2 separate regions of the Homo sapiens genome follow, and region 1 is linked to region 2. Evidence: fine-mapped expression QTL. A gene starts in region 2. The other region holds a variant in brackets. All regions are shown on one strand. Distances are between the middles of the regions.

Region 1 (8,343 bases), 200 kb after region 2:
CTCTACTGAAAATACAAAAAAATTAGCTGGGCATGGTGGTGGGCACCTGTAGTCCCAGGTACTGGGGAGGCTGAGGCAGGAGAATGGCATGAACCCAGGAGGCAGAGCTTGCAGTGAGCCAAGATTGCACCACTGCACTCCAGCCTGGGCAACAGAGCGAGACTCCATCTCAAAAAAAAAAAAAAAAAAAAAAATGTGGCCCTGAAGAATTTACTTGAGTGACCCCATTTCCTCATCTGCAATTAATAGCAGTGTGGCAAAGACATTTATTGCTATTGATGATAACCTTGCCTTTAAATGATTAATTCCTGACATGGGTGTGAGGGGCATGACTGAAGACTCACTCATGTCTGTCTGGGCCTGATAAACTTTGCATACATCCCATTCTTCAAACTGCTATGAGCTACTTTTCTCGGCTAGCAGATGGCCATCTTCTCACTGTGTCCTTACGTGGCCGTCCTTCAGTCTGTGTAATGTCTGCATTCTAATCTCCTCTTCTTATGAGGATACCAGATTTTTTGGATTAAGGCCAGCCCTAGTGACCTTATTTTATCTTAATTACCACTTTAAAGGTGCTAGCTCTAAATATAGTCACATTCTGAAAGTCAGGACTTCAACATATGAATGTCAGGGGACACAGTTCAGCCCATAATGCAGAACATGACTAAAAGTGAGACTTGACTGTCACTCATGTTTGAAATGCTTGTTCCCTGGTGCCACAAAGAAATAGCACTTGAACATACATTTAATTTTCTCAGCAAGGCCATTTTTATTCTCTACAGAAAGGGTACATTCACCAGCAGTTTTGCCACAAGAGTACACCGAACAAAGGAGACAGGGTTATTTATAACCTGACGCATCCACCCTACTGCTGTGTCTGGTTTCCATTGGCTGGAATGGGACCTCACTGTAACCCACATGGACCTAGGGGGACTGAACAAAGGGGGCAAATGTGGGAATAAAACACAAGAGATGAAAGAGTATATTTGGAAGAAGGGGTCAGAGGGCACCTTGCCTCTAGTGGACAAGGGCCCTGAGCTTTACACAGCCCTCCGTATTTATTAGGCAATAGAGATAGCAAGAAGGAGGGGAGTGGTTGTTGGCTGGCATTTTATTCACAGCAGGCTGGCAAGACTGCATTCTTAGAACAATAGGAGCTAGATCTCTCAATAGATAACTTCAAGGAGCCTGGCACCATGGAGTGAGGCCCTCAGCAAACGTTTTGGTAGCAGGGCAGTGTGAGTTTGGCCACATCCTGCATTCATGATAAACAGTTTGCCGTTTGATCATATAGCCTCCAGCAGAATACTAAGTTGGTCATGTCCCACAGGCTTTCGGCTCCCTGCATATCCCACTTTTTGTTTATGTATTAATTGAAAGAATGTAAGGCCAGACTGGGTAGCTCTCATTCTCTGATTGGTGGTCCATCCAATTTTACAGAAAACATAGCATTAGAACAGTGTTGTGACTCTGGCCGGCATTCTGTCTGTCTTTACACTCAGGCTCAGCTGTCTCATGGTTCGTACCAGAAGGACCGGGCTCATGGTTGGCCACCCTGGGTTCCTCCAGTCTCCCATTCCATGGTCACACATGTCTTGAGGGCACCCACAGGGTTTGTCCATCTGTAAAAACACAAGTATATCCTCTTCCCCACGTCAGTAAATCCACCGAACCTTTACATTGTCCTTCTTCCGGGGATTTCCATAACACTTTTGGATAAACTTTCCTCTTTTCCTTTAACATTTGCCAATGTCTTTCTACTGGAGTCTTACCATCCATACTAGGAGTCAAAAAATTTAAAGTAGAGGCCGGGCGCGGTGGCTCACGCCTGTAATCCCAGCACTTTGGGAGGCCAAGGCGGGCAGATCACAAGGTCAGGAGATCAAGACCATCCTGGCAAACACGGTGAAACCCCATCTCTACTAAAAATACAAAAATATTAGTCAGGCGTGGTGGCGGGCACCTGTAGTCCCAGCTACTCAGGTGGCTGAGACAGGAGAATGGCATGGACCCAGGGGGCAGAGCTTGCAGTGAGCAGAGATCGTGCCACTGCACTCCAGCCTGGATGACAGAGCAAGACCCCATCTAAAAAAAAAAAAAAACTTAAAGTAACTAAGGCTAAAGGTAGTTTCGATTGAGGTGGTAGTTGGCCTCCTATACCCCCTTTTTGTTTTTTCAACATGCATTGTAATGTTTGATGGGCCCATTCTATAATGACTTGTCCTCTAGCATCATAAGGAATTCCTGTTTTATGGGTTATAGCCCAAAGCTGTAAGAAATTTTGAAAAGCATGACTAGTATAAGCGGTTCCATTATCAGTTTTTAATTGTTTAAGTATCCCCATATGAGCAAATGATGACAATGTCGCCATACATGACCAGCTGTCTCACCTGCTTGGCATGTAGCATGCAGCATCTATAGTCACATGAACATAGCTAAGCTTACCAAAGGTAACTATTGTGTAACATCCATTTGCCAAACTTCATTTGGAGCCAAACCTCATGAGTTACAGCCTTCTACAGGTGTGGCTCCAGGGACATGCTGACAAGTAGGACAGGCTTGTATTATAGCCCTAGCTTGGCTGCAAGATAAATGGAACACGCAAGTAAGGGTGGAAGTATTTTGATGCAGAAGCGCATGAGATGCTTGAGCTTGCTGAAACACAGAACAAATCAATTTATATCTACTTTATCATTCCCTAGGGATAATGGTCCTGGAAGTTGTGTATGAGAACAAATATCAGAAATATGAAAAGGATCTGCATGAGAACGAGTAACTCGCTGAAGTCTTTTTTTGTTTTGTTTTGTTTTGTTTTTCACATTAGATGTTGGTAGAAATTTTTATTTTTTTAACTTTTAGGTTCGGTGAACATATGTAGGTTTGTTATATAAATAAATTGCATGTCACAGAAGTTTGGTGTACAGATTATTTTGCCACCCACATAATAAGCATAGAAACTGATAGGTAATTTTTGGATCCTCATCCTCTTCCCTCCCTCTATCCTCAAGCACGCCCCAGTGTCTGCTGTTCCTTTGTGTCCATGTGTACTCAATGTTTGGCTCCCACTTATATGTGTGAACATGATGTCTTAAAAATAAATTAAACAGTTCTGGGTCTAGTGTACTTTTAATTGTAGCAGTTTCTATGTGACTGGTTACATTTACAACATAAGCTGAATCACAGACAATGTTGATAGGATCTGAAGCTGCGAGCTGTAAAACCTGAATGACTGCAATTAGCTCTGAGCCTTGAGCTGAAGCCCCAGATGTCATTATTATTTGAGTATGTTTACGTCCATAGATAGCAGCATGACCTCTGGAAGAGCCATCAGTAAAGTAAGTCTGTCCACCTGCAATAGGCTTGTGATGAGTAATCACAGAAAGAATGAAAGAATGGATTTTATAAAACTGTAAAATTTTGTCTGAGGGGTAGTGATTATCTATAGCACCCATGAAATCTGCAAAAGCAATTTGCCAGGCAGTTGACATTTCCCAAGCTGTGGCTTGTTGCTGGGAGTCTAAAGGAACAATAATTTTGTCAGGGTCATATCCCATAAGCATTTTTGACCTATGCCTGCCCATAGTCACAATTTGTGTAATTAAAGAAAGATAAACTTGCAAGGTTTTGACTGTTTGATTAGGTAGAAAGAGCCATTCTATTACTGTTGCAGACTTGTCTATGAACTGGCCCAATAGTCCTGTTGGAGAGTGGGGGGTAGGAGGAATAAACAAAAGCAAAGGTTTTTGCAGTTGTAGCTGTGAGGCATGTCTCTGCTGTAACATTTTCTCTACAAGCCGTAATTCGGCTTCTGCCTCTTTAGTTAGTTGCCATGGGGAATTTAAAGTAGAATCTCCTTGCAGGGTTTGGTAAAGATGTGTAAGTTGATAGGTAGCAATACCTAACATTGGCTGTAGCCAATTAATATCTCCTAATAATTGTAGAAAATCATTTAAAGTCTGTAACCTGTCTTTACAGAGAACTACTTTCTGAGGCCGTACACTTCTCTCCATAACAATAATTCCTAAGTATTGGTATGGGGAAGTTGTTTGTACCTTTTTCAGAGCTATTTTGAGATTCCATTTAGTCAAAGCTTGCTTCGTTTCTCTGAATAACTGCTGTAGGATTTGATCTATAGGAGGGGCCAAAAGAATATCATCCATAAAATGAATGATGTAAGCAGTAGGAAACATATTCCGAGACTCCTTTAATGCCTGTCCTACAAAATGTTGACATAGCATGACTTGGGGGTAAAACTCTCCATTGATAACAAGAAACAGGTTCTCTTTGGTTAATAGAAGGCACAGAGAAGGCGAATCAAGGCTTATCCTTCTCATGTAAGAATATAGTAAAGAAACAATCCTTAAGATCTATTAATACAAGAGGCCA[G/A]ACTCTTGGAATAGCCACTGAAGATGGTATACCTTTTTGTAAGGCATCCATCCATTTTATATGTGTATTAATAGCTCTTAAATCTTGTAGCAGTCACCATCTTCTGGACTTTTTTAGAATAACAAACACTGGAGAATTCCAGGAGCTAACTGACTCCTCTATGTGTCCAGCATCCCACTGATCTTTTACTGGCTGTTGAAGTTGTGTCGGCTTCTCCTGAGATAGGGGCCATTGATCCACCCACATGGGTTTGTCACTGAGCCATTCTAATGGTAAGGCAGTGGGCAGAGGAGAAATATCAATGACCTCCATCAGAAATCCTGACGTCCTAGCCCTTAGCTATCTGTTTTTCCAGTTACTGCTATTGGGTTAGGATTTCCCTGAAGAAATTTTCCTAAAGGTTTTCCCTGCTGATATCCCATGTTCTTTAACATTTTAAGTTCTGGGTTATCAAAAGTTTCATTTGTAAGTCTCATATCCCATGCTGTAAGTCTCAACCCCATAATTTGATGGCTATACTTGCAACATGAGGCTGAAAAGTACATGACTGTCCATCCACACCAAGACAAGATAAAATTTCAGCATACTGTTGAACACTTTGAGCTGTTCCTACTCCCATTAGGGACATAGAAGTTAATTGCAAGGGCCAGGATGGGGGGCCAATTGTCTTTACATATTACTGAAACATCAGCTCCCATATCCATAAGCCCATAAAATGTCTGTCCTTTAATTTGTACTACACAGGTGGCTCTATTAGAGGCTATGGGTTGGGATAGATAGATTTCCCAAGTAGTTGTGCTCCCAAACCCTTTATTTCCTCATTTCTCCTTTCATGGAGAAGGGTGTAATTTGCAGGGAATAAGCAATAATTGAGCAATATATTCTCCTGGTTCAAAAACCCAAAGATCTTGTGACATTAAAACTACTTGAATTTCTCCTTCATAATCAGAGCCAGTCACTACAGTAATGCCTTGCAAGTTAAGGCAGCTTTTGGCTAAAATTAGTCTCATATATCCTGCTGGTAAAGGTCCCCAAATGCCAGTGGGAACTTTCATAGGTTTGTCTCCACCAACTAAAGTGATTCTTTCTCTGGCGGGTAGATCTAATCCTGCACTTCCTGGTGTTCCTGGGGTGAGGGGATCAATGTGCCTCTGGGAACTGACCTCTGAAATGGGGTTGAGGTCTGGACTGGGAATGCCCTTATTGTTTGTGGGGCCTGGGTCCAGGCCCCCATCTCGTTTCCCAGCAGGGGGGTGCCATTCTGATGAAATTTTGAGTGGCACTGATTAGCCCAGTGATTTCCTTTCATACAGTGAGGACAGAATCCTGGTGTTTATTCTGCTGGGTGGGGCACTGCATTGTAAGGTCCTTTCTGTCCTGAGATCTGGCAGCATTCCTTTTTAAAATGTCCAGTTTTTCCACATTTATAATATTTTCCCGTTTTGGGGTTTGACCCTTGGCTCCTTTTAGATTTGTCAACTGATAAATTAGCTATTGCTTGTGCTAACATTGCAGAGTGATGAAGCTCAGTTCCTACATCTTGACAAGCTCTGAGAAAATTTCCCAAGTTTTTTGTACACCTCACCAGTGCCAGTGCACATTTACAATCCGTGTTTGCATCCTCAAAAGCTAGTGTTAAGGTTAGCATTTCTGCAGCCGCAGTATGAGAAATCTGACACTTCACTGCCTCTTGTAATCATGCAAGAAATTGCACATAGGGTTCCTGCAACCCTTGTATGATACATAAAAAGGATTGTACTGGGACTCCTTCAGGAATAGTGGCCCAGGTGCATTTAGTGGCCTGTGCACACTGCTGATAAGCAACATCTGGGAGTCCCATTTGAGGTTCCAGGTCTGAATAAGGGCCATTACCTAATAGCATATCCTCTGTAATGTCTCCATTTCCAGCAGCACAGTTCTGTCTAGCCTGGTCTGCACACATTTCTTGCCAATTTAAATTCCATGTCAGATATGCAGTAGCCGACAAGCAAATTCACGCCAAGTGTTTCACATCAAATGGTAAAAGACGCATAGCACCAAACACAGATTCTAGCAATCCTAAGGTGAATGGGTTCTGTACGCCATTGTTTACCACACTCGCTTTTAATTCCTTTAACAAGTTAAAATCTAGTGGAGTGTGTTCATGAATAACCTGCTGTGCATTGTTAGGATTAGGCCTTATGGAAATAGGAAAAGCGTGAGGTCCTAAGGGCTCTCCAGCTATTGCAGCAGAGCATAAAATTCTTTGTATTGGAGTCTCTATTTCTGCCACCAAAGGAGGCGGTACAAATGTTTCTGCAACTGGAGGAGGCAGTATAGGCCAACTTTTATCCTCCCTCTCCTGTTTTTTATTTTCAGTTGGAGCTGTGGGTGGGACAACAGATTCTTTTAGATTTTTAGATTCAGCCTGCTGTCCCGCAGAATAATGAGATAATAGCAGAAGTACAGTACAAACTAAACTCCAAGTGGAGAAAACAGAAGAATCAACTTCAAGACCTTTTTGATGAGCCTGTTTTAATCCTTCTCCTGCTCTATCCCAGTTTTCCACATCAAGAGTGCCTGCCTGTGGAAACCATGAGTTATGCATAATAACTTTGTGTGGCTTCTGCAGGAGGTTAGTGTCTGAGAATTAACCTGAGCTCCAGACTGTCTCAACAGAACTTTAAGCAACTGCACATAATGTTTTTCTTCAACAGACAAGTTATTCCCCCTGCTACCCTGATTCAGAAAGCTTCCCATTCCCAGCACTTCTATAAAGCACTGCTCCCAGTACCTCTTTAGAGCACTGACCTTATATATGCTGCCGGCAGACTCATCCTGGGGTCCCCGTTTGCCTTGTCAATTTCAGCTTCTCTGCTCCAGCAGATCTTTTTTGTTCACATCGTCGAAGTCCCGTGTTCAGACGCCACTTGTTGGCATCCTTGGCGTCCCTGTTCTGAGTCACCACTTGTTGAGAACCCAATTGTGTCACTGTTTGGGGCACCACTATGTAACCTGCATGGACCTAGGGGGACTGAACAAAGGGGGCAAACACGGGAATAAAAGACAAGAGGCAAAAGAGTATATTTGGAAGAAGGGGTCGGAGGGCACCTTGTCTCTAGTGGACAAGGGCCCTGAGCTTTACACTGCCCTCCATATTTATTAGGCAATAGAGATAGTGAGAAGGTGGGGAGTGGTTGTTGGCCAGCAGCTTGATTCGCAGCAGGCTTGCAAGACTGCATTCTTAGGTGCTAGACTTCTCAATAGATAACTTCAAGGAGCCCAGCGCCAGGGAGTGAGGCCCTCAACAAACCTTTTGGTGGCAGGGCAGTGTGAGTTTGCCCACATCCTGCATTCATGATAAACAGTTTGCTGTTTGATCCTATAGCCTCCAGCGAAATGCTGAGTTGGTCACTTCCCAGGGGCCTTCAGCTCCCTGCACCTCACATTCTGTATTTGTCCTGATTAGCCAGCAACTTAGAACTTTTTAAAAGAGGCAAAGGCAGAGGAGAACAAAGGAGGAAGTAACTTGTGGAATGCTGAGAAAGGTAAAAACACCTCCAAATAAGGAAGAGGAACAGACTATGACTTAATACTTGCTTGGACCAGTGTAAGCATGCCAGGGCAAATATTTAGGCTAAATTGTGGGAGCTAAGAACACAAAGTACATTGATTTCTTTATTATAGCTAGCAGATATCTAAGAATGTTAGCACAGGTCTTTGAATAAATTTTGTTTCTGAGAGAAGTTACTATTTATTCCTAATTAGACGGGGAGGAAAGTCTCTTTGAAGAGGAACCTCTATTTTATTTTTACACTCAGAAGCCCGGGCAGCTCTGCCGGGAGTGCAGGGAGGCAGCTCTCCTGGGGGTGCAGGTAGGCAGCTCTGCTGGGGGTGCGGGGAGGCAGCCAGGCTTTTGTTGCACTTCCATCTACTGGCAGCACACACAGAAAGGAAATACTCCCAGTGGCTAGATTC
Region 2 (8,343 bases):
TCAAATGTTTACCAAATTGGAAGGCTCCAGCCATCTTCAAAAGGGCAATATCATAGTCCATTGGTTTCTTGGTGGAGAAATGTGGATGTATGATGACAGTTTCAATAGTGAGAGTTTGCTCTCCTGGGTCTGTCTGGCTTAAGTCATACTCTCCAGCAGTAACATTCAAAGTAGACACAATGTTTCTATGGAAAGCAAAGAGTAAAATGAATGAATTTCATTGTGCCTCTGAGTACAGTTGCAATGGTTGACACACTAGCTTCTTTAAAATGATATGGATAAATAATATGGGGTGTGAGGCTGCTGAGCAGAGAAAGTGAGAATAATTCCAACACTGTTAGAAAAAAATGCAGAGATTCCAACTTCCAGTAGAGGACTAGTGAAGAGTGGGTTCATATATAGCCAAGGATATGATGAATTTAATACTTTGCAATGTTATTTGAAAATATCTAGAGAGGCACATACATTGTAGTTCAGGGCTCTACAGCTATAGGGGACTTTATTCAGCTACCCTGGGAGGTTGACCTGACCTAATATCAGTGAGACCCTTTGGGAATGATTTGTGATTCCCAGTAAGTATGCTACTTCAATGTCAGAGATCCTATGCTTAGTATATATTATAAGGCACAGACTGCATTATAACTAACTAATGTTCTCTGAAAGGAACTTGGTGGGATGCATTGAGATATATAAAGACTTCAGCTTGCCATCCTTTGAGACGCTTCATTCCCAGAAGTGATGCTTCTATACAAAATTGAAAAAGGCATGTTTTCTCTAGGTATACTTCCCTGACTCTTGGCCAAATTAGGTACCTAACTTAACACATAATGTCTCTCTTACCTACCACTTGCCACATTGCTGTGAGATGATCGGTTGACTCTTGTTAAAAGAAGAGTCAACTCTCTGGGGGCAGAAATCATGTCTTAGTCATTTTGGTACCTTTGGTATCTAGCACAAAGTAAACATCCAGGAAATGTTTGCAGACTTGAAATGAAAGAATGACTATATGGGAACATGATCTTGATTACAGCCTAGTATACGCCCAGAACACTGTCAATAATAGGATATTTGGATCACACAAGAAAGTGGGTAAAGGGAAGTTGTTGGGTTGAGTCCCAGAGAGGCAGGATCAATGGGAAGGAAGACAGGGAGCCTACTTTCTACTTTACTGGTCTCCCTTTGTTTTCTTTTATCCATTTCTTCAGATGCATAATGAACTAGATATTTTTTCACTGAAATTTAAGAAAACTAGAAGAAAACTTTCACAAATCCTTCTTTGTAATGCTCTTTTTTTTCTGACTTGGATGCTATTATTAACTTCCAGTTATTTTAAGTAAAAACGAATTTTACCTCTGAAAAGAATATATGTCATCTACCAAGTGCCATCTGACAATGTCACCCAGCCCCATTTGTGTCATGCAATTAGGATATTCATCTGTTAAACCAATACTCACCTATCACACAGGTCCATGTTTTAATAGGGTTATTGCTGATGATTCCAAGGGAGAAGAAATGGTGGTGTGGTCTTCACTCATGGGCTAGGCCTTTCTTACCTGTTTGCAATGCAGTGAGCCGCCGTGATCACCCACTGTGGTGAGACGATGCTTCCTCCACAAATATGCTTCTGCCTTTGTTTCAGAGATACCTAAATTGCAAATACCTTAAATGAAAGCAAGTTCATGCCCTGGGATCCCCCTAAACACGGTGATGAAGCCTATTCTCAAAACCAGACTCAGATATCACACTCGTAAATGTCAAGAATCGTGGACTGTGAAAAGATAAAGCCCAGACACTACCGCTCAGAAAGAAGAGTGGTGCTGGCAACCCTGGTCTAGATGAGAGGTAGTTAATTTGAGATGACTGGCTGTAAGTATGTGTCAACAGAGGTAGCAGTTAGAAGTGGTGAGATGTATTTACTTATTTTTATAACACAGTTGATGCAGACCTGTTGCTCTAACAATATGAACAGTGTCTGTGAATGAAGGTAAAATAGTATAAGATATTGCAGAGTCCAGCTGAAGAGGTTTGGAAGAAAGGCAAGGTGAGGGCTGGGGAGCCTTTCAACACATACTCCTATTTCTCTAAGCCTCTTAGGGAAATGGTTTGGATCTACCACTTTTCTCATACTCTTAACTATTTGACCCCTATAGCTTCTTCAAGCCTATTCTTTACCCTACCTCTCCAATATACTTTCTAATTTTTGCTTATCCTATTTGTGATACTTGATTTGATTCTAAAATGACTTACTATGTACAAGTAAATACTTTTTCTTATGACATTCATCACATGCCATGATGACTATTCTGTCTTTCAACCCAACTAGGCTGTAGGCTCCTCAAAGATATAAACTTAACCTTAAAAATATCTATATCCATAATATCTAGCACAGTTCTTGATGCATAGAAGTCCTTGAGACTCACCTGCCAGGGATAGGAACCCTTCTCCACTTGGCTTCCTCCAAGAATGCGACTGAAAATGTTAAAATAATTCCAAGGCTGTACCTTAACCAGACTCTGCCCACAACTGGGAGCTGAGAAAAAAACGAGACAAACTAAATGATTAGATAGCTTCTAGGATTGAGGTAATATCTTCTCCATTTCACCCATGAAACTGAGTCTGAGACTATGGTGTATGGTGCTCAGCACACATTCAGATATCAATAAATCTTTATTGGATTTAATTCTCTTGAGGGATGAAAAGTGACAGGTCATTTAAGGAGAGTGGAGTGAAGTGTCCTGATTCACAAGTTGGTACTCGGATAGAGGTTTGCTAGGTAATAGAAGAAAAAACTCCTCCCTCTTTATGTAAAATACTTTATCCCTGAAAAAGTTGTTTTTATTTATTTGCCCTCAATGGGTTTTCTGACTCCTCAGCAAAGAGGTAGACTAGATTAAAGATGTTTAACATCACCTGGTAACTCAAGGATGGCACATCTTCTGTCCCTCCTGGAGGTCATCCTTTTCCATATTTTGAAGGAGGATTAGAACTAGCCTTGCTTCATAATCACCATGCTTCATTGCCTACCTAAATTCTGTAATTCTTATTCCTCAGCTTGGAGATCACCTCAACCAGGAAGTCTTCCTTGATTTCCTCAAAGTGGGATTGCCTCTCCCTTGTGTTGTGTAGCACGCTTTCTTCACCCCTTTTATAGTTCTTGTCATGCAGAATTGTGATAATGAATTATTTGCCTCTATCATCGGACTATGAACTACTCAAGGGAAAAAACTTGCCTTATTCACCTCTGCATTTCTAAGGTTTAGCTTAATTCTTGGCATAAGTAAGCACTTAGAAACACTGGATGGACAAACAAATGACTTTTCTTGAGAACACATCCTTAAGAGTATAGCTATTTAGATCAACATGTTAAAATATTCAAAGCTCTTTCATACAGCTTCTCATTTAATCCCACTCTATGCCTATAAATGAAGCACTGTTATCCCCACATTGCAGATGAGAAAACTGAGAATCAAGGAGACACACAGCTGGATAATGGCAGAGCATGAATGTAACAGTAAGTGTTTTGATCCTGAACCCAGTGCCAGGATGACATTGGAACAAAAGCTTATTTTCTAACTGTTTCAGTTGAATGAGTCATAAATACTTTAAATACAAAATTTACTATTTCCCAAATTCAGTAAAGCAAAGTCAGAAAACATGTTGATTCTCAGGGTTGGCACAAGTCTGACCAAGGAGAAATCTTCCAAGAACTGTTTTCAGCTTAAGTTAGTTGAAGGGGAAAAAAGACCATTTATAATATACTACAGTGAACATGCTTCATATTTCTCAGCAAGATGATTTTGTAAAAGATTAAAAATGCTTCCAAATCCATGCTGATTTCCAGAATTTGCTCTATGAACCAAGATGGGATTATGTAATGGGTTCAAGTAAGTGAACAATCTCAGTTCACTTAGGAAAACTAAGCGAAGAAAACAGGGATTGTTTACTTAATTGGATACATTAGTTGCATTCTATAAATGTTTCACCCTGTGTCCTATGCCGATTGCAGGAGATAAGTCCAAAATAATTGTTTAAAAACAATTAGATATCCAAAATATATTTGCTTCTCCTATTTTCCCAAAGGAACATGGAGTCTCGGAGTTGTGACGTCCATTGCCAGCAAAGGTTCAGACAAAGGTAATTATAGAGTTCATTTGAAACTTACCTTTGGGGAGCGAAAGAGTTGCAGATTTACCTCGTTCAAAAAAGACTATTCCTAGTAGTAAAATCAGCTTGTTCCTGCTTATAAGCATTTTGAGACTCATAGTTTTTCCCTGAAATTTTAGAGAGACTAAAGCAAACAAAAATAGGAAGCCTTGAGAGACCAGCAATAAGCCAATTTAAAACAAGTTTATTCATTAACCAAGACGTGGTGAATCAAGCATGTCCATCTGATGTTTCTGAATGTAGTGTTTCGCAAAGATCTTTTGGAAGATGTGGAGAAACAACCACAGAAGCAGAGTCTTGATCAAGCAATATTACATATCCTATTACACCTACACCAATTAGTTGATTCCTCCAGAGTGTATCTGGCTAGCAAAGTGGTTAGCATGTAAGATTTGCATCTGCAAACATTACTTGCTCCTTTGTAGAGCTTACCACTTTTACCACTTTCTATAAGAAGATTGACTATCAATGTTGTCCTTGTTTGCAAGGGTACACTTCCCTACTTTTTTGCAAACGACCCATCCAAATGTATATAATTTTTTTGGGCAGAGATGGAGTTTCATCATGTTGCCCAGGCTGATCTCAAACTCCTGGGCTCAAGGGATCTGCCTGCCTTGCCCTCCCAAAGGTCTGGGATTACAAGTGTGAGCCACCACGCCCAGCCAATATTCTAAAATATTTTTATTTATCTTATTTTGCAAATGTAACTACATGGTTATTATAAACATATGTTGGTGAATGAGAGAAGTGGAAAGATATTTGGGTGTCACACTCAGGAAGCCCTGCTGTTAGAAAGTCATCTAGGATACTGTACATTGGGGCATTTGTGACTCTGCATTCTCCTATCATTTTTGTATTTATAGAAGGGAAACACTAAATCTCCTTTACTTCTATGCCTGGTAGATGCTTGGGAGAGTAAAGTGGCTATGATTACCTGTACATTTTCCTCTTTCCTCAACGAGTTTTGGGCACATGGTCAGTGTGTGAGAAATATTTATAGGATGGTCAATGCCATCTATGACCAGATAGAAATATAACATTTTTCTGTCAACTTTTATAAGTTACCCACTAAAAATAACAAATGTCAGCCCAAAAGCTCTTAATTTCCTTTTGGCAACTTTTGTCTTTGTACAAAAAAGTATGAAAATACAACACATACAAATAATATAAATGCAAAACAGAGAAGGTGTAAAAACTTAACATTTGTAAGCACTACATATTTAGGTACACTAATCAAGAATGTAGCCTTATGGAAAGAAGGAAACTCAAACCTCTATTGAGGCTTTATCTATAACTACTGTAATCCTGATGCCAAACATTTTTGGCTATTGGTATGGAGTGATAGCCCCAAGAGGTAATCAATCAATGTCTAAGCCCTAATCAAAGTCTCAATCTTTCTTTGACAGCAAGCTCCCTTTAAATTGCTATTGTGTTTTATCAATCACTTTTGAGAGCAACTTGACTAGGAATATGGCCTTTCTGACCCCAAATTCACTACATTCTGTCTAAAATGTGTATACTGTTAATGTCAAAAGTGCAGAAAGACCTAGTGTGGGCCTAGGATGCACTAAACTTGACAAGCCTAAAGTAGGCACATAGCATAGGACAATAAAATTTGACTCTATACTGAAAGAATGATGAGTTTTCCTTTGTAAAATGTGGGAGTGGAGCGTTTTTATTGATTGTCACACAGAAATATGATGAGCTCTTGCTTAGTGCTTAATTTCAGGAGAGGGTATTTGCTTCAAGCTCTTGCATCAGCACAACTATCAGTACACATCAACACACTCTTCACCACATGAAGCTGGTCATTAAGAGTTTGTTACTTTCATCTCTTAAGGGGCTAAAATGTGGCCCCCTTGCTGTTAAAATATTTGCTCTTCATGGGGGATGTAGCAGGTTCTAAGACACTATATTTTTGTAAGTCCAGCTATTCAACCCTCCCAGGGTCTGGATAGGAATTATAATAACTGTACATTGTAGTTACTTGCAGACAGGAATATATTAAAGTGTTGCTTGGCATGGTAGTATAAAATCAATTTTTCATTCATGAAACTATTAAACCTTTTAAAGGGGAAAAAATCTCTCTTGAGAATCTTGGACCAAAGTCTGCACCAAACATGGATTTGGAATTCAAATACATTGTTTTCCCTGTCTGTAAATCCCCAAGTTGAGAAATTAGTATCAAAATTTCTCCTGAAAGCAAAACTGTCTCTCTTCACAGATGATATGATTCTATACCTAGAAAATCTCAGGTCTACCTGTTATAACCTTCTTCTCTCTTTTTTGCAGCAATTATTTTTGTTGAAAGAATTGGTTATTTAGACCTTTAGCATTTTCTACATTCTGTATTTTGCTGATTGCAGAGCTGTGACTTTAATGTGTTCCTATAACCCTGTGATATAATCCATAGCTAATGATTATAACTTCTGTATTGTACCCTCCAATGAAAAGAGAACAACTCCAGTATGAGCAATCTCTCTCTGTCTTTTCAGATTTTTCTGTCAAAACCTTTCACCTTCTGACAGACCTCAGAACACTCCAACTTTGTTGCTGTGTCTTCCTGGGTCAATCCACACATTTGAGGTTCAATAAACCTTTATAGATTTTTTTCTGTCTTGACAGCCTCAATTTTGGTCAACAGTGCCATAAACACTCATCACCAGGAATGTTCTCAGCCACCTCCAGTGGCCCAGAGAAAGTAACAGAATGTACTGTCTGGTAGAGAGTCCCAGGAGTTGGGTTTCTGGACCTGTCTGCTTCTCATTCTCCCTGAAGTTTCCAGCCACCTGGAATTGCCCTGCCCCATGGGCCCAAATACCCCCTCACATCTCCCTCCCAGGGGAAAACACCAACTGGTTCTTACTTGGAATAAATTGGAGTGGGTCTACTCCAGAACTTTTTCAGCAGTTTTCTCCTAACAGGCATGTTAGGTTGTGGTTCTTTCCTTAATTGAATTCCATCTACTTTTTATCGTTCTAGAAATATTCATAATTTGGGGCCACTAAAAGTAGCTTTCCTTGTTCAGGTTTTCCAGCACTGCTATGAGTTCATTTGTTTAATACATCCTTCTTATCATAAATTTGGAGCAGGAGCAGGAGGACACACCGTATGGTCTCAGGCTGCCAACTTAATCCAATCGCTAAGTGGGAACCACTGAATCCTCCTTTATAAACACCTTGCATATTCCCTGTTGCAACTAAGAGATGACACTAAAGGTACATGCAAGGTAAGTTGAAGTGTAAAATAATTAAGAACAATCTGAGAATGCCTCAAGGATAATCAAAAACAATAAGGGTATTTTTAAAAATAAATTTTAAAAGGGAAGAGATGATTTGGAACTGAGGGATGATATGAATCATGCAAAGGAAGGATCACTTTGCCCCTTCTCACTGTTTGAGTCTTAGAATAGAAATGGGAGTACTCCAGAAAGTGGTTTAGTTATACCCAGGAATTTCAGCGATACTGGAGAAAGGAAGAGTGGGGAAAGTTCCTATACATACTAAGCACAGGAGATAGATAGCAAAGAAACAAACTTAGGCAAAAGTGAGCTGGCCAGAAATGAGAGGGAACAGAAGGGAAATCGTGTAGGGATTTGCCTGAGTCAGTGTTGGCAAAAGCAAAAAAATTCACACACAGGTATGAAGAAAACAGGAAAATAGGGGAAAGGAAACAGGAGTCTGTTTGGAAAAGATACAATTAGCCCCCGTATTCTTGTTGAAAACTTGATGTGTTATGCTTCAGTCTCTGTAGTTTGTCTCCAAGATACTAGCTTTTATGAAGACAAAATTTTCATGGTATGACGGAGAAAGGAAGTTAGCAGGAGATGTAGATGAGTGAGAAAGCCAGAAAAAAAGAAGTAGTTTAGGACAATAAAAAAGTTATCTCCAACAATTATGAAGTGGTGAAGGAGGCCAGTTGAGAAGATAAATCGAGCAAGTGCATCTTTCTTTCTTTTGTGTCAGTTTTGAAGCTAGTGATTGGTAGGAGCCAAAAAGAAAAAGAAAAAAAGGGATCAAGTTTCAGCTTTCCACATATGGCTAGCCAGTTTTCCCAGCACCATTTATTAAATACAGAATCCTTTCCCCATTGCTTGTTTTTCTCAGGTTTGTCAAAGATCAGATAGATGTAGATATATGGTGTTATTTGACCCAGCCATCCCATTACTGGGTATATACC

Which allele goes with the higher level. Positions count from the first base shown, and alleles are read on the strand shown. Sizes are in standard deviations (SD) of each study's normalised expression.
For the expression in minor salivary gland of the gene that starts at base 4,333 in region 2, A is the low allele of the variant in region 1 and G is the other (moderate effect, 0.70 SD a copy in GTEx).

What was found.
Region 1: its variant is fine-mapped to the expression of OVCH2 in minor salivary gland (GTEx, PIP 0.99).

The regions. Positions count from the first base shown.
Region 1 is chr11:7,898,427-7,906,769 of GRCh38, forward strand. It overlaps LOC283299 (a long non-coding RNA gene), which reads right to left and starts at 7,529. Exons shown (of 8, transcript NR_036678.1): 1 at 7,177-7,529. It overlaps LOC107984307 (a long non-coding RNA gene), which reads left to right and starts at 7,896. Exons shown (of 3, transcript XR_001748116.2): 1 at 7,896-8,240. RefSeq lists enhancers at 7,073-8,272, 7,074-7,617, 7,618-8,161. The variant G/A (reference allele first, on the strand shown) is at 4,387.
Region 2 is chr11:7,702,145-7,710,487 of GRCh38, forward strand. OVCH2 (ovochymase 2) reads right to left here and starts at 4,333. Exons shown (of 16, transcript NM_198185.7): 1 at 4,163-4,333; 2 at 2,421-2,530; 3 at 1,554-1,645; 4 at 13-185. The coding sequence starts at 4,250. It overlaps LOC105376533 (a long non-coding RNA gene), which reads left to right. Exons shown (of 11, transcript XR_007062576.1): 7 at 3,451-3,511; 8 at 4,081-4,134; 9 at 7,257-7,393.